Linked DNA regions of Homo sapiens: regions 1 and 2 are each linked to region 3. Evidence: fine-mapped expression QTL. A gene starts in region 3. Each other region holds a variant in brackets. All regions are shown on one strand. Distances are from middle to middle.

Region 1 (8,000 bases), 110 kb after region 3:
TTTTTAGCTCATAAATTATTCTTGGCTTCTGTTGTTGATGTCTGCTCTCATCCTTAGTTCTTGCAGAAGTGGCATTTATTACATAAGACGTGGGTTTTTCCTGTGGGCAGTGCATGGAAGTGTGAGGTTTCCAAAAACTATTTATCACCCCCTCTCCCCAGCCTTTGTAGGGTTGGGGGTGAAAAAATTCACCTTCAGAAAGTTAAAACAACAGAATCAACAAAAAATAGAGGAGATAGGCCACTTTAAGAAAAGAAACCACATTGTTTCACTTGTCCATCTGTTTGTGTGTTCAAATTGGACTTAGGGACACAGAATTAGGTTAGTCATAATCCTTGGTTCAAGACACAGATTCTATATTGGTCCCTGAATAGCTTGTGTTTTTTTTTAATCTGTTTGTTTAATAATAAAGTAAACAATCACAGTCTACTACCTAACATGAGATCTAGAACTTAATGAAGTTTATGTTTTCCTAATCCATCCCAACCCTGATGTAATCACTATCCAAACAAACACACACACACACACACACATCTATATTTAAGAGCATATATATGACAAAAACTACATTTTAACCGTGTGTGTGAATATATATGAAGATGCTTTCACATATTCGAGAGAGAGCATATTAACTTTAGTTGTTTTCACTTTATGTAAAAGGACATCATTCTAAGAAATGTTTCTGGGACTCATTCAATAATATATATCTAAGATTCATCCATATTGTTCCATGTTGTTTTTTACTGTAGTGCATTTTATTACTTGTAAGAGCTACACATTCTCTTGTCTAGCGGGTATTGAGTTTTTGCTGGATTGTATTTTACTCTTTATTATGGAAGTTTTCAAACATATACAAAAGTAGAAAGAATGATATAAGGAAGCAGGGTGCAGTCATCACCAAGGCCAACAGTTATCAACATTTGGCCAATCTTATTTCATGTATTCTCCCATCCACCACTGGATAACTTCGAAGCAAATCTCACACATCACCCATAAAAAATTTAGTCTGCCTCAGCCAGGCTCGGTGGCTCACGCCTGTAATCCCAGCACTTTGGGAGGCCGAGGCTGGTGGATCACGAGGTCAGGAGATCGAGACCACGGTGAAACCCCGTCTCTACTAAAAATACAAAAAAAATTAGCCAGGCACGGTGGCGGGCGCCTGTAGTCCCAGCTACTCGGGAGGCTGAGGCAGGAGAATGGCGTGAACCCGGGAGGCGGAGCTTGCGGCGAGCTGAGATCGCGCCACTGCACTCCAGCCTGGACGACAGAGCAAGACTCCATCTCAAAAAAATAAATAAATAAATAAATAAATAAATATTTAGTTTGCCTCTTAGATAATAACCTTTTTTGAATGCAGCAATGCAAATATCACACTTATTCCTTAATATTAGCATAAATCCAGCACTCAAAATTCCCCGATTGTCTCGCATCTTTTCTACCTGTGTGACCCCACACTTCTGAAATAGTGGAGGGGAGGAAATGCGTAACCTGTGAGGTCAAGGCAGAGTCTGAAAGCCGATGGTGGTTCTCCTCCGGCTGCAGTCAGCTCCTTTTCTGGGTCATTGCTGAAACAGCCAGAATCTAAAGCGGGGGACTCCAGAGAGCACTGGAGAAGTTCGAGGAAGGAAGAGAGATGCAAGCGCGTGGCCCCAAGCCTGAAGATAAAGAAAAGGCAGAAGCAGTCAAAGAACCCTGTGCAACGTCCTCACCGAATCCTCCTTCTCAAACCTCACTCTCCTCTCCTTTCCGGTTAAAATCTAATAAGGTGTTCAAAGGCCTCTGCCGGCCCCTCCGTACTTCTCCCTCCCTGAATGCTTAGAAAACAGAAGAAGGAAAGAGGAGATGATAACAGGAAAATAGAAAAGCGAGGGTCAAAAGTTAACTGCTCAAAACCGCCTTCACCTAAACCAGGCATTGGCAAACTTTTCCTGTAAACGACCAAATAGTAAATATTCTAGGTTTTGCCATCTCAACTACTCAACTCTATCTTCAAAGAGCAAAAGTGGCCAAAGACAGTCTGCAAACAAACAGGCAAGGCTGTTTCCTAATACTCTTAATCCACAGAAACAGAGGGCAGGCTGCATTTGGCCCACAGGCTGTGGTTTGTCAACACGTAGTCCAAGTACAACAATTTTTATTTCTGTCTATTCCTCCTATGTTTTTGATTATTAAACAGTTACTATAGTTGAAATAGAAAAATAGGAAAAATGGAAATATAAAATATAGCTAAATAGCTAAGTTAATTTGGACTAAGTGATTATCCCCATTTTTCAGATGAGAAAATTGATGTACTTTGAGATTAAAGGATTTGCCCAAGATCACAGAGGCACCATGTGGCAGTGCTTGAACTTGAACTCACAAAGTCTGCCTTCAAAGTCCAAGTTTTTAAGTTTTCTCCTTGTCTAGATGCAAACAAATGTCAATATTGTAACCATAAAAATTGTACAAAACAATGTATAATATTTCCTTAACACTGTAAACATTTAAGTCTTACAATTTTGATAATTTGGTCATTATAGTATTGATCATTATAATTGATAATTGCTGCATAATTTTTCATCATTGGGGTAATAAGTTTTATTAAATTATTTTATATCTCTAATGATTTTATTTTATTAAATTATTTCCTAAGCTAAATTCCCAGGAGTAGTATCACTGGGCATCTCTCAAACCTTGTTGTTATGTACTGGGGAAGAGAGTGCTGATTTGTGGCAACTGCCAATTTCTGTGGTGTAAAGACTCCACAATGGCCACAGATTTTAAGCTACCAACATGACATCACTGAACAGAGCCAAGAAGAGAGGCACATCCTGGGCTCTTGCAAGAAGATGCAAGCTGGTCCAGCACCCAACTGACTTGGCTCATGTTGCCTTTCTTCTTCCCAGCACCAAATTATAAATTGAATTAAAGTGTGAGAGTGTTTCATAAAAACTTTTAAACACTTGATAGTGTGTGAGTGCACTGGTATCTCAAATTTGCTCTAATTTACATCCCCTGGTTCTTACTGAAAGTGTCATTTTTCCATGAGTTCCTTTATGTGTGTCTCTTCTGCAATCCCCTACTCACATTTTTTCATCTGTAGGGTGATGATGCTACTATAAACTGAATGTTTGTGTCCTCCCAAAATTCATATGTTGAAACCCTAACCTCCAATACAATGGTATTAGGAGTTGTGGCCCTTGGGAGGTGATTAAGTCAGGAGGGCTGCCGTCTATTAGCCAGGAAGTGGGCCCTCACCAGACACCAAATCTGCTCGCACCTTGATCTTGGACTTCTCAACCTCCAAAACTGTGAGAAATAAATTTCTGTTGTTTACAAGCCACCCTAGTTATGGTATTTTGTTGTAGCAGCCCAAAAAGACTAAGACACATGCCTTTTCTATGACTTTGAATAACTCTACACATGATAGTTACTCATTCCTTGAACTTGTCTGACACAATTTTGTCTAAACCTTGCTTTTGTTATTTTGTTGTGCAGAAATTATAATGTAATTAAGCCTACTCACCTTTACTCTTGCAAGTCTTTTGGTAATGAACAAGAGAGAGTTCATCCCATCTTCATTTATTCTGCAAATATTCATTAAATGCCTGCTTTGAGGTACTGGAAATACAGCTGGGACCAAAATAATCTCTCTGACCTCATGGGTCTTCCATTTGGGTGGGAAACATAAATTGAAAATCAACAAGCAAATCTATACTGGAAGGTCTGGTGGTGATAAAAGCTACAATGGTACAAAGCAGGGTGAGGGGACAGAGAGGAAGGAAGGTCCTCTCTGGGGACCTTCCCTCTGGGAAGGTCACATTTGAACAGAGACCTGAAAGGTGGAGTCACCAGCCGTGCTGATTTTCCTGCCATTGGAGTTTTTTTTTTTTTAATTGAACTCATTTATCTATCTGGATTTTATTTTTGGTATATGATATGAAAGAGGCTCTGGGTACATTTTATTCAGTTTGTCTACAATTCTTTTAATGCCCTTCCTTCTATTTTCAGACATGTTGTTATGAAGTTGGGTCTAATTCTCAGTTCACTAATACATTCCAATGTGTGTATTTTTAATTGCTATTTTTTGGATAGCCCTTTCCAAAAAAGTTCACCAATTCTTGCTGATTCTTCTGCTTTAGCACTAAATTATTCTTTTCAGTCTCAAAATGAACAACCAGCTTCCTGAAAGGCAAACTATGTCTTAACCATCACTGTATGTACAACATCTCCCATAGAGTCTAGTCAAAATAGACTCATAATATGTTTTTGTTGAATGAATGTCAAAACTCATGTAGATGTTTTCCACTCTCATGCAGGCCTAAGAGCACCTCATTCTGTTAAATAGGTCACAAGTAGCAGACAGCTACTCACACCCACTCACAGGCACATCTACTGTTGTCACTGATTTTTAGGGAAAAAAAAAACAGAATGTAAGACTTTAGTCCTTTACTACAAAGCCACTATAAATGTGGCACCTTTGGTAGACAACTGAGGCAAAGAACAGAGTCCCTCAAAAAGACACAGCCACTTCCATAAGAGAAGACGTACGGAGTTTGTGTTTGAATTATTTCATTCCATTTATTTCACTTGGGATAGGATTGAAAGTCTTGATGATGAGGCCATAGCACAGTCAGACCATCTGCTTTTCCAGTTCTGTGTTTGCACCGTCTGTGCATCCATATTCCCCCCAAAACCAAGAAGGCCAGTGAAAGTGGGGCCAGCACAATGCCCCAGGAGAACGTGGAGGAGGCTGTGGGAAGAACAGAGTCACATCAGGAGCTGAACAGTCTCTCACTGTACAAGAGGACAGGGCAATGCAGGTGTACAAGATAAGAAAGAAATTGGAGTTTGTTTTTCTTGATAAATGTGCATTGATTTTCAGAAAGCACATCCCTCACACCAACATGGAGGATATTTGAGAGTGATGTCTGTGGCATTAGAGAAACGAGCGTGATAGGGCAAAATCTGTTAGAAAC[A/G]TCGTAGGGTAAGTGGGCAAGTGCTGAGGGTTTAACTTTGTTCCAACAGTGGGACACTGTGCGTTTAAGATGCTGTCTGTTTATGTCACAGTTGGCCAACTGTGACAGAGCCAGGAACAATCTGCCCTTTTCTAATGAGCATGGGTGTCATGAGGATCAAAGGAAGTAGCAAAGGAAAATAAATTTTGAATAATGGAGCTGCAGGGGCCAACACGATTGCTTGGGTCCAGCTATTTTATGTTCTGCTCCTTGGCGTCTCTGTGTTATGGAAATACAGGAAGAGACTCTGAATAAAAAGTTAAAAAGCAAATGTGAGAACAGAGTGTTATCAGACACATTGTTGATGAGACTAGAATCCTGCATTTTTAAGCTATTATCTATCACAGTCTGTTTAGTCATCCAGGAATCGACATGACCTCAGCCTGTTGCTCCAGAGGATTCTCACATTTTAAAACCCCACAAAGATTAGAAATAAGTTCAGCTGTAATATTCTGGGCAGCTGTTTGAATACACCTCTCAGTCCTGGTGAAAGACTTACAGCCTGTGTTCCCTGGATCAGTCACGGCCAGCCACATGCAGGGACAAGGCTCATGTTATGGAAAATTTTAAAGGTTCCCAGCATCAGGGCCAGACAAACCACAGGTTCCTTGGGCTCACTAATCTGACCCCGAGAGGGAACATTCTGATTTTTGTGGGTAAATGTGTACAACCACCATCTCTCCCAGCCTGCTCATCTGGAAATGATCTGAAACGCCACCCTTCACATGTGTGCCCTCATTCTCAAACTTCACTGTGAAAGGAGCTTTTTGTGTCACAGGCTGCAGCCTCTCCCTAGGAATATTTGACAGGGTGGATCTGGAGTAAGTCCTGAGATCTGTGTTTGTGACCAGTGGCTCAGGTGAGTGTGAGGCTGGTGGTGCACAGCGCACAGTTGGAGGAAAGTTGGGTGCCATTCCCTGTCCTGAGGCTGGAACACATCATTGGCTTTCCAGTTTACACTGTGTTTGTGGCTGCCTCCCCAGCAAAACATGGAGACCTGGAGCAATTTGTATTTATGTTATTGCTGTAAGATTGTCCACGAGCCATCACTGAGATGCTGGGAATCACTTTGGCTTGCCTGCCATTAGCTACAGGCTGTCAACAGAGACTACATTCAAGGCAGCTCTCCCTCCTGCTCAACAATTAAACATTGATATGAAATCAATTTAATCAAAAATGATAATGTGGGTTTTCCTCTTCTTCTTTTTAAATGTCCTTAAATGAACACTGGGTTGATTTGGCTGTAGCCTTGTACCTATTTCCGGTCATATAATGACTTTGACCCTAAAGCTGCCCTGAACCCTGGGTAGCTCCCAATCCCCAGCTCTTAGAGGATGAAGTTTCTCATCTTCAGGATAAAGAACAATCCACCCTCTTCTAGAGGCCATGCGAAGACAGCTGATTAGTGACCCAAGGCAGAGCCACATGCAGACAGAGTATTTCGAAGTTTACTGTAGAACCATTTCATCCATTTTCCAAAAATCAGCTTGCTATTTAAATTTTTCATTTGAGTATAATCTCCCAAAGTCCAGCCTCCACCCTACCAAAACTCTTTAAAAATGGGAGGTTTCTTTTCAGCTCTCCACTAGCAGACAATGCAAGGGAATTTCTATGGAATCATTTGGAGAACAAGTAGATTTGTCTAGTATCCATGGAACATTCAACATGTTATATTCTCCTATAGTGCTCCCCAAAATACATACATACCTTCCTTGACTGTGGTGCGTAGTGTCTGAAAACTCAGGGTATTATGGACAACACATTTAAAATCCATGTGCAAATCCTCTCTTGTGACAGGATCAAAAATCAATGGCACTTCAATGTAGTTCTCATTATTTTCTGAATATTCCCTGAGTTAAAAAAACATTCACTTAATTATGATTGTATCGAATGCAAGCTTGTCTTTCACAATGTAGACATCTAAACACTCTCCTTTAGAAGTACCCATTGCGCTTTTATTGTTTTCAAGTTTCATAAAGTTAGGAGCTCTTGCCACCATACTTGTGATTCATTTGGGACAGTTTCTAAGCCTGTCCCTGAAGGCCTTAGTGTCACTGAAGTTGGCGGTCACTGGCATCAAACAGTTGTTACACTACAGGGTTAGATAATGGGGAAGTTCATCTTTTAAGTCTCTTAATGAACAACAACAACAAAAAAAAACAGTCATGGGAACAGAAACGTCTAGTTTGAGGAAACTTGAGTCCCTCACCATTAAATCACTTGTATATTGAAGGGCAGGGAGTTTCCAGGACTCCAGCCCTCAGTGGTGCCGTCTCTTCTCATCTCTACTGCTGACTCTCACTCTGGAAACCTGCAGACAGCCCAGGGGAATGGCTGTGGCCAGGATAGCTGCCATTTATAGTGTTAGAGGAATCTGTAGACACCTCACTACTAACTGTTAGTGTGAATAAAAACACAGATGAGTGGATCCACTAGGAATATTTTTGTTCTATTTGTAGGGGGAATATAGGTTCCTTTAAGTAAGTGGATCATATGAGTAAGCTGAGATGGGCATTTAGTTGTGGCCAGGTCTTTTGCAATGAGAACTTGCAAGCACATGATTGTGCTACCCACACATAGTTTTTATCCACTAAATTACATCCAGAAAGATCTTTTGTGATAAGTCTTTCAAAAAACACAACCATTTGGCAAGCAAAAGCTCAGGCTAATTCAAAGTATCAAAACTGTAATTTTAAAAAGAGTTACAATTTGGAATGTTGAATGGTCTCCCTCACAGGCAACAAGTTCCCACTTACAAAAGGTCTGATTGTTCGAGTCTCAGAGTAAGAAAACATTTTCTAGAGATGACTGCTTATGAGAACTGAATTCTTTCTTTTTTTTAATTATTAACCTCCCTTAGAGATTGTGGCAGCCCACAGCTCCCTGAGAAACAGAAGAGGTACTATAGATACTGTGGCTAGGTCTCAGGGTCTTTTTAAGGGTTTATGAAAATGTTTGATAGTCAGGTTGCAGAGTGGAAAATGGAAAGATATGAACTCCAAA
Region 2 (8,312 bases), 61 kb after region 3:
TTTTTAAATAAGATATTGATGAGTGAACAAATATAAAATCTTTGAGAGAGAAAGGGAGGCTAGATAACGTTTAAAAACAGCTGGAAAGAACAGTAACGAGAATTTTTTAATTTACGAGGTGATTCCCAGAGCAGATTAGTGACAGATAAAGAACTAGTGAGTTTTTTACACAGTTGAAAGATCACAAAGAAAAAAAGTCTGTTGAAAAATAAACAGAGCCCCTGGCTCTGCCAAAATATATGTAATTAAAATCCCCAAAAAAAAAGAGGGGGAGAAAGGCGTAGAAAATATTTAAAGTAATAATGACTGACAACTTTTCAAACAGTGAAAAATATTAATTTACATATTCAACAAGCTCAATACAACCCAACAAAGAATAATCACAAAGAAAGCACATCATAAGCAAATTGTTAAAAGCCAATGATAAAGAAAATATCCTGAGAGCAGCTAGAGAAAAACGACCCATCACATACAGGAAATACAATGAAGTGATTAACAACTGAATTCTTATGAGAAAGTACGGAGGCCAAAAGGCATTGGAACAACATACTCTAAGCACCTAAAGAAAACTAAACTGTCAATTAAGAAATCTTACCCAGTGAAACCACCCTTTAAAAATTAATGCCATTATTTGCAGATGGCATGATTGTTTTTCTGGAATATTCACAAGCATGTACAGATTATTAAAATCAGTAAACAAGTTTAGCAGTGCTAGTGGATAAAAGGTCAATATTAAAATCACTTTTATTTCTATCAACGAACAAGTCATAAATGAAATGTTTCAAAAATTACTTCATGTACAAGCTCACTAAAAATAGTAACCACCTAAAAATAAAGCTATTGCTGACACAGACAGTGATTCTTCTGAAAATATGAAAAACATGTAAGTTCCCTACACTGAAAAATTTTAAAAATTGCCAAGAGAAGTTAAAGAATATCTTATAAATGGAGCTATACAATGTAGCATGTTCAATAATTGAAAGATTTGATGTTGTAAAGTTGTCAGTTATTCCCAAATTGATTTATAAATTAATTGCAATCCCAATCAAAATCGCTGTTGGTATTTTGTGGGAATTGACAGGTGATTTTAAAATTCATATGAAAATATTAAATGCAAATAATAGCTATGGCAATCTTGAGGAATAGTAAAGACTTACCCTACTAGATAGCATTTTATATCAGGGCTATAGTAATTAGGACAGCATTTCAGTGAAAATTTATACAAACTGGCCAATGCAATAGAATGAATAGTCCAGAAAAAGACTCATACACACCTACATAGTTACCTGATTTATGCCCAACACGCCACTGAACTGAAGAGAGAAAAGAGTATTCATTTCTCTAAATGGCACTGAATCATTTGGATAGTCAAATGGAGAAATGAAAATTGAACCTTGAGCCACTGCTTAATACCATATCCAAATCTTAATTGTTGGTCTGCAGATCTGAATGTGAAAAGTAAAACAATAAAGCCTTTAAAGAAATGCACAGGAGAAAATTTTTATGACTTTGGAGTAGGCAAATAGTTGTAAAACAGACACAAAATATTCTAATAATCAAAGAAAGACTATTGATAAATCAAGGTGTGTTCATCCAAAGACACCATTAGGGAAATGAAATGCAATCCACAGAGTTGAAGCAGGTATTTGGAATAGATACTGCTGACAAAGTGTTCTTACCCAGAATGCATTAAAAACCACTGCAAATCAGTAAGAAAAATCTAGGTAACCCAATAGAAATACAAACAAAAGGTTGAACTGATCCTTAACAAAAGAAAATATTTAAATGGCCAAAAAATAATTTGAAAAAGTGTTCAACTGCATTAGCCATTGGGGAAATTCAATTAAAGCCAGAATGAAATTGCGGGACACTCTTACCAGAATGGTGAAAATGAATAAGAGAAAATATTAAACGCTGGTAAAGATTTCCATCAGCTGGAACTGTCAAACATTCCCACTGGAAGTACATATTAGCAGAACCATGCTGTGTGGCAGCAGTAACTACTGCTGAGGAACAAATACATATCTTATGACTCAGTAATTTCACTCACAGGTACAAGACCAACAGAAAATAGTAGAAATGTCAACCAAAGTATGTATACAAAAATACTCATAGCAGCCCTATATTTATTAGCCAAAAACCAGAAACTATCCAAATGTTCATCAGCAGTACAATGTATTAATAAATCATAGCATATTCACAAAATATGATTTTGTGAAAATTAATTTAGTTGCCCATGATGAGTTCACTGTTCTGTGTATGCATTATACTTCATTTAAAAGTTTGAAAAGATCCATATTATGTATAAGACTGGTTAACTTTGTACGGGGCGATAAAATCATATCATCTTTGGGGATAATTTCTCAACCAGGATTTTTACTACTGTGAGTTGATTCCGAGCAACCTCTATTATTACAGGGCTGTACGCTGTGTGTATTTATTTTAGTTATTGATTGTGTCAAACCAGACCACCAGGCCATAAAAGAATCATTATTTTGCTGCATTTCCATGTTTAGAACAAATGCCTCTTTTTCCAGCATTCCTGGGAACCAAGGAGGAAACGCACAAAAGATGTCAACGGGCTGTCTTTAGTTTAACTGAGCTTCATTTTACTGGATTTTTTGGTTAGGGTTTTTGTATGGCCTTTCTCATTTGCGCCTCACATTATAACTGCTACATCTTAGTTTTGCAAACAAGAAAATTGAGATTGCGAGAGATTCAGAGTCGCAAGAGATTCAGAGTCGCAAGAGATTCAGAGTCGCTATGAGGCCTTGGTCAAGACCACAGAGCTAAAAGGCAGGGCAAAAACAAAATTAATATTTAGCTAAAGCACATATTGCTATTTCCACTTTTTTTTTTTTGAGGCGGAGTCTTGCTCAGTCGCTTAAGCTGGAGTGCAGTGGCGTGATCTCGGCTCACTGCAACCTCTGCCTCCCAGGTTCAAGCAATTCTCCTGCCTCAGCCTCCTGAGTAGCTGGGATTACAGGCGCCCATCACCATGCCTGGCTAATTTTTGTATTTTTAGTAGAGATGGGGTTTCACCATATTGGTCAGGCTGGTCTTGAACTCCTGACCTCGTGATCCACCTGCCTCGGCGTCCCAAAGTGCTGGGATTGCAGGTGTGAGCCACCACACCTGGCCGATATTTCCACTTTTAAAAAGCATTAGCACAGCTTGTAATTGTTTCTAAGTACCTACTAACTATAGTTTTAGGTACTAGAGGAAAACTCCTAAGTGTGTCATCAGGTGTCAGAACAGAGGGACCCAAGGATGGAAGAGCCCGTATCTGTTTGTGTCAAGGCCAGCTCAGGGATTACCCTTGACCACTCAGACATTCCAGCTACTTCATGAAAGAGAACTAGTAGGATTACACACAAGGGAACAATATTACTTCACCCAGAAATACCTCGGCACTCTGGGGAACACACCATCCATCTGGGGAGAAGGTACCTACCCAAAAGGAAAAAAAAAGTTCTATTCTAGACACTGTCAGTACGAGTCATCAGCTGATGTGTGGAGAATTACATCTACCTTGCATTTTTTTCCAAACACCCACTCAAAGAAAGTGTCCTCTGAAGTGTGGAAATGAGTCAGTGCATGAATCTCACTTTCCTGATGTGGCCCTAGACCTTCTTAGAGTTTAGAGTAGGACTAAGTGTCCTCAGGAAATCAGTCAGCACTTGCTGGGTGCAGAAAATCCCTTCATGCGGAGCATCAGGGGTGCAAAGTCACGTGCCAGCCCTACAGAAGCTTACCATCCCATTGGAGTGGCCCCCTCTGGTCCTCATGACCAGGAATCCTGATGTTTTTGACATTGTTCCTGTTCGTTCATAAAATTGGCTGAGGTCCAAACCTCAGCCTTGAGTACAGTCCCTGAGAGGAAGTTGTTCTTCATACACAAAGCTCTGGTTTCCTAACATGCTTAGTGATTAGAAAAATTTTAAAACTCTTAACAATCTCTGAGAGTACCCAGCCAGCGAGGTTACAGCGAGGCTAGCAGCTCTCATTTGCACTGACCGAGCAACAGTCTACAACATCTCCCAGCAACAAATAGCTCAGTGAAGACAGCCCTGCTGATGGCATGCTCGCTTGAAATATTTAAAAAAGAGAGAGAAAGAGAAATACTATGGCACAATAAGACTCTCTGTCTCCAGGGCGTTTGTT[C/T]TGTTTTGTTTTGTTTGATGAAGCAGTTTGAATAAGAAAAATCAAGAAAACCACTACTTCCGTTATCACCTACCTCATGTTAAGTGCATGGAATTATCATGACACTATTCCTAAGAAACTACTTTTACTTTATGCTGATTCTGAAGTTCTTATACCAAGTAAATTAATGATGTTTGAAAACAAAAAGAAAGCAAATGTCCCACCTCAATCCAAAACATTCCAAGATGCACTATACATCCTTGGCTTTAGAACAAACAAGATAATCCTTTTTGAGAAGATTATCAGCAATTTTTTTCTCTTGTGTTTTTCTAACAAACAAAATGGATCACATGGCAAATATATCTCCAGAAATAATATTTAAATTAAAGGATTAGATTTATCCTTTAATTTATCCTTTAATTTATATTTATCCTTTAATTTAATCTAAATTAAAGGATTAATTAAGGCAATGTATAGGAAGGGAAGCAGAGACAAAGATAGTTATAAAGCCAAGAAGGAACAGGAGAACATTTGAAGAAGGAAAGGGAGGACGAGGAAATGAAGAAAACCTGGAAGTGAATGCCAAGGTGTTAGGTTATTTGCCCACATCAACTGACTTAGCAGCTCCAGAGGTGGGACCTAGGAATCTGTGCCCTCCAGGTATTCTGAGGCAGGCTAACATTTGATAAACAATAAACGAAAATGCTCTGTAGCCCATGTTTTAACTTCTTTAAAAGTAGAACTGCCTTTACTCTCTTTCATTCTTCCAAAGCATCCCAGGCAAATGGGCCATTGATAATGATGACTGATGACTGGGTAGTTCATCTCACAGCCACCAACGTAATCAAGAGAGGAAGCCACTGGAGTTGCTCAACCATTAAGCCCAAATCCACTATCAAACTGAAGCCATTAGGACTTCCAGTGTAGCCTGCAACACATGTGTTTCTCTGATATTCAGATGAGAATCAAGTCGCCATTCAGGCCTAATTCGCCTTCGCCTTCTAAACAGGGTGGGGGCAAATCCCCTAGCCCTTTTCTTTGTCAGGAAGCTGGATATTCACTGATAGATGGGGTGCTTTTCAAACCACTGACCCCAGGACAGGGAAGGAGCTGTTATTTCCTGTCCCTTGTACAGTTAGTCTAACTCAATCCTCATTCGTACTCTAGAATGAAAACTTGATCATTTGTAGAGCAATGCCTGAAACCACCGTGGAGCCAGGCTGGTAGATGCCCTGGTACATTGCAGGTTGGAAGATTATTTCCATGGATCTTGGGAGAGCACCAGATGCAGGCCATTGGGTGTGGTTCAAACTCTTCCATCCCAGGCTCCCTTAGCTGGTTGTAACTAATTCAGCATATTTCTGCAGGATTTGCAAAAATCTCTACAGTTAGAAATAGATACTCTCATATATTCTTATTTTAATGAGAATTTTATTGAGATGTCATTCACACAGCATAAAATTACCCTTTTAAAAGTGTACAATTCAAAGGGTTTCAGTATATTCATAGAGTTGCGCACCCATCACCACTATCCAATTTCAGAGCATTTTCATCACCCCCAAAAGAAACTTCATACTCATTAGCAATCACTCTTCGTTCCCCTTTCTTCTAGCCCCTGGCAATCTATATACTACTTTCTGATTCTATAAATTTGCTTATTCTAAGCATTCCATATAAATGGAATTATACAATGTGTGGGCTTCTGTAACTAGCTCCTCTCACTTAGCATAATGCTTTCAAGGTTCCTCTATGTTGTACTGTGTATAGGTAGTACTTCACTCCTTTCCATGGCTGAATAATATTCCGTTGTTTGGATATACTGCATATTGTTAATCCATTCATCCATTAATGGACATTTGGGTTGTTTCTATGTTTTGGCTATTTTGAATAATGTTGCTATGAAAATTGGTGTACAGATTTTTGTGTTGTTAATTATGTCACATAGATACCTAGGAGTGGAATTGCTGAGTCATATGGCAACTCTATGTTGAACATTTCAAAGAACCACAAACTATTTTAAAAGTAGCTGTACCATCTTACATTCCTTCCAGTAATAAATGAGTGTACCAGTTTCTCTATGTCCTCACTAACATTTATTATTTCTGGCCTCTTTCATCCCGTCATTCTAGTGGATGGCATCTTAGTATGTTTTGCTTTGCGTTTGCTAATGACCAGTAATGTCGAGCATCTTTTAATGTGCTTAGCAACCCTTTATCTATCTTCTTCAGCGAAATGTCCATTCAAATCTTTTGCTCACTTTTTAATTGGGTTGTCTTTTTATTGTTAATTTATCAGAGATTTGTGCATATTATGGATACAAGTTCATTATCAGATAATTTGCCAATATTTTATCCCACTCCATGAGCTATATTTTCACTTTCTTAAGAGAGTACTTTAAAACATGAAAGGATTTAATTTTGGTGAAGTGCAATTATCTATTTTGTTGTTGCTTGTGCTCTGGCGCTGTATACTTAAGGAAGCATTGCCCAATTCAAGGTCACAAAGATTTATATTTATATTTCCTTCTAAGAGTTTTGCAGTTCTAGATCATACGTTTAGTTCTATGATTGCTTTTTGAGTAAATTTTTGTGTACAGTATGAGATAGAGATGCAAATTTTTTCTTCACATGTGGATATCCAGATGTCCCATCACCTTTTATTAAGAAGATTATTCTTTCCCCCACTGAATTGCTGGCATCTTTCTTGGAACCAATTGACCATAAACGTAAGGGCATATTTCTGAATTCTTAATTCTATTTTTATTGATTTTTATATTTATACTCTGAGAACATCCTACTGTCTTGGATACCGTTGCTTTGTAGTAAGTTTTAAAATGGGAGTGTAAGTCATTGACTTTGTTATTTTTCAAGATTGTTTTGGATATTCTCCATCCTTTGCATTTCCTTGTGTATTTTATGAGCAGTTTCTCAATTTCTGCAATAAAGGCAATTTGGATATTCATAAGGATTGTGATAAATCTGGGATACATTTGGGGAGTACTGCCATCTTTAAAAAAGTTAAGTCTTCTGATTCATGAACATGGGATGTCTTTCAATTAATTGAGCGATTTTAAAATTACTTTCAATAATATTTTATACTTTTAGTGTACAAGTCTTATACTTCTTTTCTTAAGTTTATGCTATTTTATTCTTTTTGAAGCTATTGTAAGTAGAATTGTTTTCTTAATTTCATTTTCAAATTTTTCATTGCTAATATATAAAAATACAATTAATTTTCATATATTGATTTTGTATCTTGCAAACTTACTGAGCTTGTTTAGTAGTCTAATAGTTTTTAGTGGATTCCTTAGAATGTTCTATATACAAGACCAGGTCATTTGAGAATAGAGCTGGTTTTTTCCAATATGAATTTTATTTCTTCTTGCCAAATTTCCCTAGCTAGCATTCTTAGTACAATGTTGAATAGAAGTGGTAGGATTAAACATCCTTCTCTTCTTCCTGATCACAGAGGGAAAGCTACTGGTCTTTGATCATTAAGTATAATGTTAGCTGTGGGGTTTTTTGGATGCCCATTATCAGGTTAAGAAAGTCCTCTTCTATTACTACTCTGCTGATTTTTGTTGGTTTGTTGTTGTTGTTGTTGTTGTTTTTAATCTTGAAAGGGTGTCAGATTTTATCAGACATTTTGTCTGCATCTATTGAGATGATTATGCAATTCCATCCTTTATTCTATTAATATGTTGCATTACATTGATTGATTTTTGGATGTTGAAATAATGTTGCATTCTTAGGATAAATCCCACTTGGTCATGGCATATGATTCTTTTATAGCTGCTCTATTTCATGTCCAGTGTTTTGCTGAGGATTTGTATGTCTGTATTCATCAGGGATATTGGTCTTTATTTTACTTTTCATATGATGTTTTCATCTGGTGTTGGTACCGGGGTAATACTGACTTTCTAGGATGAATTCGCAAGTGTCCCTTCCTTTTCAACTTTTTGAAATAGTTTTCTGAAGGATTGCTGCTCATCTCTTTTAAATGTTTGGTGGAATTCACCAGTGAAACCATCTGGGCATGGGCTTTTTTCCTTTTTTTTTTCTTGTGTGTGTGTGTGTGTGTGTGTGTGTGTGTGTGTGTGAAGTTTTTTGACTGCTAATTCAGTGTCTTTATTTATTATAGTCCCATTCAGATTATCTATTTCTTCTTGA
Region 3 (8,000 bases):
ACAGGGATGGGCCTCATCTCTTGTCCTTTGTCCCCTTTCTAAATGCCCTGCCTTGTGCTTCCCAGCCTCCCCTATAACTCCAACACATCTCCTCTCCAGCCACCAGGGTCTACGATGCCAAGGCCACTATTGCACTGGACTTGTCAAAAAGTTGACTGAGAACCAGAGACCTTTCTCCCTGGAGCACTGCCTCCCAGTCAGGCAAGAACAGCTGTTTCTCAGATTGGGATCCACAGACAGTTTCAGAGGACTAAGCCTTCTCTACAAGAATCGTTACATTGTTTTCACTTCTATAATTTTTTTATTGGGGTAAATATTTTTCACCATATTGCTCATGGTGAAACACACAAAACTTACGTGGACAGTTCCATAAATTGCAACAACTGTGTGCACCAGGAATACTTCAGGATGTAGACCATTTCTGCCACCCCTCAAAGTTCCCTTGTGGCCCTTCACCCCCACACACAAAGCACCAACCTTTCTGATTTCTAACTCGACCTCTACCATCCTACAGCAAGCAACGGAAGTGCATTCCTGATGGCTGGCTTAGACATGTCCGGTGCCCTGCTATCTCGGCACCCACGCCTGCAATGGCACTTTAATCACTCACTACCCAGCAATGCAGGGAAAGCAGTGGTTCTCAGTGGAGTGGGTATGGCCCTTGAGGGAGCATTTCGGAACCTGTGGGGAAGGGGACCCTGGGTGATCAGGATGCATTTAGCATTGGAGGCCATCGATGCTTGACATCCGGAACAACACAGGCAGTTCTGCTCAGAAAAGACTTGTCCTGCATGACCTCCAGAGGTCTCACAGACGTTCATACTGACGGAAACATATTTACAATGTTTGAAGCCTAGCCCCCCAACTCCCTTCTACATTCATATGAAATACATATATTGTTGGCACAAGTTTATACACACTAAATTTTTCAGGAATGCAATCACTGTGAAAATTGAGAGAAGAATGGCCTTTGGCTACCATCAAGACCTTAACCGAGAGTCATTCATCCTTCAGTGGCATTTGGATGGCCACTGAGACTCACCTGTTCCCACCCCATGCCAGCTGTCCTGCAGACTATAGAAAGCAATGGCTCACCTCACTAGGTTGTAGTTCAGCTTAGCTCAAGCATCTGCACACTGAAATGCATAATTTTAATACAAATTGCTTTTATTTCTCCTTAACATCTAAGTATTACATTGATTTTTTAAACTTATGTTGTAGATAAGTTTTATTATATCGTTTCAAAATTATAAAAGGGGTGTTTTAAAATATTTGCATTAAGGGGGGTGTTGGGTTTTAATGAGGTGAGACCCACTGATGGAAAGTGACACCATCTAACTTTTCATTTAACTCTTAGTCATTAGTCATTGGCTGTATTTTCAGGGATCTATGAGTTCTCACATTTGGGACGCCAAATGTGCAGAGACCAGCATGGCTAGACTCTTCCTGTTCACAGCTCGCTGAACCATGATTACCGAACTGTGCTTACAGGGAGGGTCATTTCAAGAGACCACCGAAAACTCACTATTCTCACCTCTTTTTCAGGGATCTTTAAAAGAAACTTCCCACTTCTCTCTGTGCCAAGAATGCTTTTTTTCCTGAGCACTTTGCTTTCATCTTGAAGACACTGCTGGCTGTGCCCTGCAGGGTTTCCTCTTTCCCACTGCCTACAGGAAAGAGTATTTATGTATTTATGTTGTCAACCTTGGCTACCTGGGGGGCTTTGAAAATACCCGTGCCCAGCACGCCTCCAGAGATGCTAGTTTGTTTGCTCTGCATCCAGTCCTGGCATTTCCCTGAGTGCTTCAGGCAGTGCTAAGGTGCAGGCAGAGCTAAGACTCAGGCTTCCCTCCACATTCACGGCCCCACTTGAGTAACTTTAGCAGCATCTAGGTCATCAGGGTTTACACTGCACATGTCAAGCCTCATTTCAGACTCCACTTCATCTCCGCTCTTGTTTTCCTTTTACCCTACTTTTAATTTATGAGACCCCCTGTCCGCTCGTGGGCATGAGTCCTCTTGGGAAGTGATAGGTGTCTCCATCGTGCCGCCATGTGTGAGCTCCTGGATGTGCATGAAGAGGAGACAGCACAGAATCCAACATGCAGGCGACTGGGACCTTAAAGAGCTCCAGCCCCTTTCAGTACCTGGTGAGATAACTCGGGGCCAGGGCTTCCCACATGCTCCCTGCACTAGGCATGGCCGGGAGGCTCCAGCAGCATTTCCTGGACCCACAGCAGACAACCAGAGGAGAAAAAGGCTGCTGACAGTGCAGATCCTTGTCTTGTGCCACCAGCCCACCTCACAACCTCAAGAAGAAGAAAATGCAAACCAAGCACCCATTCACGGCAACAGATGGGTAGCATCCTGGAGCTGTGCCATGGCAGGTGAGCCACAGGTGCCCCTGACAACTTCTTTTAAAATGGCAAGAACCTAGTATATCCATTATGTAGCATAAGAATATAAGGATCTCTGTACTTCTCCACCCACTATGCTATGGTAGTTTCACCGCAATTGTCCAGCTTTGCCTCTCTTATTACTGAGATGTCTTCTCCATAATGTCCCAGCTTGCAGGTGGACACTCAGCTCGCACTGATGCATCCCAGCCACAGGGTTTCCATCTGCCCTGGTCCCTGTGCATGGCCAAGCCACAGAGTGTAGCTCCACCTCCTAGAGCTCCACATCCTAGGAACTGAGGCAAGGGACACCACAAACTTGGAGAATAGCAGCCCTGCGATTCTCTAGGGAACCACAGAGCTACATCTGTGCCCATCATCTCCTCGTCCTCTCCATTGGGGCTGCTGAGTGGTGTCCTCTAGGTAGCCAGTGCATCCACACCCTTGTACAAAGGGGCGGATTTCAAAGACCCCCCTTTTGAAGAGAGACTGCTGACATCCTATGTCTTACCAAGAAGACTCATGTCCATAAGGGGACAGAGGTTTTCACTTGTCGTATTCACCGCTGTCTCCCCACCACTCACCACAGTGCCTGGCACATAGTAGATAGTCAATAAATCTTTAATAAATTAGTGAATCTACTATTAAGCAGTGTTTCAACAATGGTGAGAGGTTGACTCAAAAGATGTCACAGGTTTCAGAACCATAAAAAAAAAACTTGATGTCACATTATGACATACAAGCAGGGCCTATTAGAAATGGGGGTGCTGCTCTGGGCCTGCCAAGGTCATGTGAGAATTCAGATCAAATATCCTTTCCTGAACAGCATGGAGGCCACATGAGAGTGGACGGGTGCAGGAGACGCTTCACACACAGCAGCTTGGCAGCTAGCCAGAGACTGAAAATAAATCAGAGTTCCACACCCCTGCCCCAGCAAACCCCATTCTCAAAGGCTCTACCTTTCTGTCTAGCATAAACGTTAACATCGGATATGAATACAGAATATTAAATGAAATATCAAATGAGATATCACACAATAAATTAGAAGGGATTGAGAAAGAAAACAATGCCAATAGCCGCTTGGTAAACTGGATGGCAAAAAGGACAGTGAACGTCCCCATGCCACCTCTGGCTTTCCTCAGCTCATCAATAGTCATGGAGTTCTGTTTCATACATTCAATGTCCAGAAGCCTGGCACCAAACCGCAGCGACTGAGACATCCATCACATTCCCGTGACGAATGGACCCTTGCTCCATGACCTCAAGAGCCCAAGTTCATGGTGTCCCTTGCCTCAGTTCCTAGAATGTAAAGCTAAATCACAGGAATGTGGCCATCTGAGAAGCTACCCTGCCCCAAAGATAAGGCAGTGGAGAGACAGCCCAGCAGGAGCCAGCATCTGCGTGCCTTCCCAGCGGCCTTCCTTCCTCCCGGCAGTGCAGAGGAGAAAGCCCTGGCAGGCAGGACGAGTGGGAGGGAAGACAGAGGGGGGCTGCATGCAGAGGTCTTACCCTCCTTCAGGACATCATCCTCCAACAAGTTGGTCACCTAAACTTCTGCTTCCCCCGCTGTAAAACAGGGGTGATGACAGCACCCTCCTCACAAGACTGTAGGGAGGGTAAAAGACCAGTTGCTGTCAAGGGCTTATAAACTGTAAAGTGCTGGGCATGACTGTTGTAAATAATGAGTGTCTTCTCAGCGCCTACTTGCTTGTAGCTACATTCCCTAGCACCATCCTTTATCTGGAGGGGCAACAAGTTACCCTCCCCAGTGTGGTTAAGGCCTCAGCCCTTACCTTGTTAAGGAGACTGACGGTCCTGAGCCTAACCTCTAAGAGGGACGCTCCTGAACCTGTAGAACGTAGCCGGATAGAAAACCTGAAAGCCATTCACACGGGAAGTCACACACCTACCTAGAACCCCCCTCCAGAACAACTGGCAAGTTCCTTCAAACGACCTGAACAACGTTAACTCTTGCTCCACACAAGAAACACACACACGCAGACCTCACCGCCATCCCCTTCTTACACAACACACTCTGACAACCAAGTGCAACTTAGGGAGGACGCTCACGGCGTCCTGCAGAGCGGGGGACTCGAAGGTGTCAAGGCTGTGGTCCGTCTCACCCCTACCTAGTCCCCGGATGCTCCAGCTTCCCCGTACCTGGACGGACGGCCGTGGAGGGTGATGGGATCCCAGCCCCGGGCGGAACCCGGCTCAGCTCAGAGGGGCGAGAGCCCTAGGAGCCGAGCGAGGAGTGCTTCGGTGCGCGGGCGCGCGATTGTCACATTCCTGCCGCTCCCTGGGGCGCGCGGGGCAGGCCGGCGCCCCCACCGCCCGGCCCGGCCGCTCTCCGGCTCCTCCCGGCCGGCGCCGCGCGCTCCGAGTCGGCTCCGGCCGCCGGCCACAAGCTGCGCCCGCCCTCGCGGCCGGGAACTGCCGGGCGCGGCTCTGGCTCTAGCCCCGCCGCTGCGGGGGCGGGGAACGGGCGGAGACGGCTCGGCTGGGCCAGTCCGCGGGCTGCGAGCGAGCTGGCCGGGTGTCCCAACTCTCCACCCGGAGGAGCAGGCGCGGCTGGACAGACCCCTGCGGACACCGCCCTGCCCCGGGTAGCCCGCAGGGGTCCCGCCGGTTCCAAAGCATTGGAGAGCTGCCGGGCGCTCTCGAGTCGCGGCCCGGCTCCTCCAGGGCTGCGGCGGCTCCACTAGAGTTAGTTGAGACAACTCACCTAGCCACTACGACCTGGCTCTACTACCCCCATGGAGCCTGGCTGCGACCCGCGAATTGAGTTGGCGACTCCAGGGCATCAGATCCCGAAGCAAACGCTCGCCAGAGCGACCTCTGGAGCTTGGTGCCTGGCCAGGGGCTCTCTCCGACTGGCTTTGTGCACTAATTTCTTTGTACCTCCGTTTCCTCTTCTGTGAAAAAGGGATCATAAGAGCACTCATCTCATGGAGTGGTTGAAAACAGTTTTTTAAAAAAAATGAGCTAATACATATAAAATAGTGCCAGGCCCAGAGCTGATACTACTCACGCGTTATCTGCTGGTTTCATTGTTGCTGTTACGCGCCCGGATGAAAAAAGCAATTTAAGTGTCATACTATAAAATCTTGATACCACACTTGGGGGCAGACAGGGTTTTTAAATTTTTAAACTTAAAACCCACTTATGCCCACCAGCTCACTTTGCCAATGAGAATTCACACCCAGGGGAATGGAAGGATGGCCAAGGTCATGCAGCGAACGAACGCCTGGCAGGATCACACCTTGGGCTCCTTGCAGGGAGAGGAGGGGAGGGCGCAGTGGTCGAGTCTGCAGCTCCCTCGGGCTTTCCCCCTCCACTTCGCTAGTCTTCAGCAAGTGACTGGCCCCTCCAGCTTGTTTGGAGGTCTTCATGGGCCATCCTCCAAGAAGAGTTTTAATAAATGATGATAGCTTCCTTCCTTCTAGTACACACCGCCCCTTCCTGCATCCCTTTCAGACTGGGCAGGCTCTTGTTCTCGTAACCCACCCCTGGATATGCCTCTTCAGAAACTCAAGAATTGAGGTAACCTGAGCCTCAGCTGCCCCCGGACAAATCCAGGCTGGAGGAAAAGATGAAGGAATGAGCAGCAGAAGCTCATCTGCCCTAAAAGCTGTCTTGCAACCTGGCATGATGACAATTTCTCATTCTTAAACAATCTGTTTCCAGAAGCTTTTATGGTTCCTTTTCCTCGAGAAAGCAGGCTTACATCAGAGGCCAGTGACGTAGCATTAAGAGAATTCCTTAACAATCCCAGCTCTCAATATTCCTTTATACAGCAGAAGGTCTCACAGCCTTGACTCCACTCAGAATCACCGGAGGACATGACACTCCTGTGTTCAGATCAGTCACGTCAGAGTCTCTGGGGCTGAGGCCCAAAAGGCAGTGTTTTTAAAGCTCCCAGGTAATTCCAGTGCAGCTGGGGTTGCAAGCAGTTGTTCCTCTAAGCTCCCACAGTGATGCCATTACTGTGAATCCTCCAACTGAAGGCTGCTTCAACCACGTGTCCAAATGGCAGTTCTGAAAGCTACAGCAGGTGGGCCTGGCTCCATGCTGTGGAACCAGCCCAGAAGCACTATGATGGTGAACATAAATTCGTCCTTCCATTTTCATAATGAAGGTTTTTAAGCAGTTTACAAGTAGAAAGTGAAATTGATTTGTGCAACCATGTAGAAATAAAATCCGTAATTTTTGTCTTTTTTAAGTGTTGTCCCCGTTCAGCCACTCCTACCCAGTGTCCTGCTAGACATGCAGGCCTCTAGACCCAGGTGGGACTCTCAAACACCCGCCCAACACAGAAATGGAATTGGAAGACCTCCTCTTTCTCACCTTATTACCACTGTTCTATCTGGGACCTTCAAGTCACCTTCTCCCTCACTCAGCCATCCTGACCACTTTCACTGACTTTCTCCTTCCCTTTATTTCCTTTCCTTGGATAACTGGTGTGCCTGCCTGTCTCACTCCATCCCCTGGGTAGGAGGCTTCCGTAAGGTGGAGACTGTCATCCCTGTATCCCTATCTGCTCTGGTCTCAGCACCACAAAAATGCTCTGAGCACATCAACATGCTTTAGTGTAAAGCCTACTGCTTACACTGACATTGTATGCTAGTGATGCAATCCAATGGCCCACATCTTGGACAAAAACTTACAAGAAACAGAAATAGCATTGTTAGCCTCTGGACACCTTCCGGGGTGTCTCCCTCCCACCTCTGAAATGCTTATCATTCAGGAGACTTAACTGAGACCCTGTCCCCTGAGGGTTTTCAGTTTCTCCTCCACTTGTCTAGCTGATCAGATCCCAGGACCCTCTTTGGGAAGAGTTTCTGATAATGCACATGAAACAAAATCATATTGACCAACACAACATAATCCAATGCCTGAAAAATAAAGCATCTCCTATGGCCCATGTGGCAGGACATTTTGAAAGACTGTCCATTATAAACATTAAGGCTAGGCTTGAAAGAAGAAGTATTTTATGTTTTTTTTCCTTGAACCTCCAAAGCCAAAGTATTGGACAACTTAGACCATAAGGTTTACATCATAAACCACGGAGTACAGAAGAATGTATGGTAATGTAAAGCTATTTGTTTTTGTTCCCACTCCAAGGAACAGAGTTGACCAGCAGGTGGGAAGGGGAGAAGCAGAGGGAGGGAGCTGCTCTTTACTAGACCCTGAAAGGTTTCTGAGGAGTGACTCAGAGCTTCCACTCTTCAGCACCACCTAATAAGAGAAATCCTGGTGTGTTAGGCCATTCCTACATTGCTATAAAAAAATACCTGAAACTGGGAAATTTATAAGAAAAGAGATTTAATTCTCTCATGGTTCTGTAGGCTATACAGGAAGCATGGCACTGCCATCTGTTGGGCTTCTGAGGAGGCCTCAGGAAACTAACAATCATGACAGAAGGTGAAGGAGGTGCAGGTACGTCACGTGGCCAGAGCAGGAGGAAGCGAGAGAGAGGTGCGGGAGGTGCCACTCACTTTTAAATGACCAGATCTCATGTGAACTCAGAGCAAAAGCTCGCTTATCACCAAGGGGATGGCCCAAGCCATTCATGAGGGATCTACCCCCATGATCCAAACAACT

The links. PIP is the estimated chance that this variant, and not a neighbour inherited with it, causes the effect.
Region 1: its variant is fine-mapped to the expression of IL1R1 in whole blood (TOPMed, PIP above 0.99).
Region 2: its variant is fine-mapped to the expression of IL1R1 in whole blood (TOPMed, PIP 0.94).

Annotation. Positions count from the first base shown.
Region 1 is chr2:102,024,958-102,032,957 of GRCh38, reverse strand. It overlaps IL1R2 (interleukin 1 receptor type 2), which reads right to left. Exons shown (of 9, transcript NM_004633.4): 8 at 6,705-6,847; 9 at 4,414-4,732. The coding sequence ends at 4,566. Among named protein-coding and RNA genes, the nearest start is that of IL1R2, 37 kb to the right of the region's middle. The variant A/G (reference allele first, on the strand shown) is at 4,959.
Region 2 is chr2:102,078,493-102,086,804 of GRCh38, reverse strand. It overlaps a transcript of IL1R1 not described here. Among named protein-coding and RNA genes, the nearest start is that of IL1R1, 60 kb to the left of the region's middle. The variant C/T (reference allele first, on the strand shown) is at 4,165.
Region 3 is chr2:102,139,577-102,147,576 of GRCh38, reverse strand. It overlaps IL1R1 (interleukin 1 receptor type 1), which reads right to left and starts at 4,831. Exons shown (of 12, transcript NM_000877.4): 1 at 4,557-4,831. RefSeq lists enhancers at 3,614-3,908, 3,674-3,968.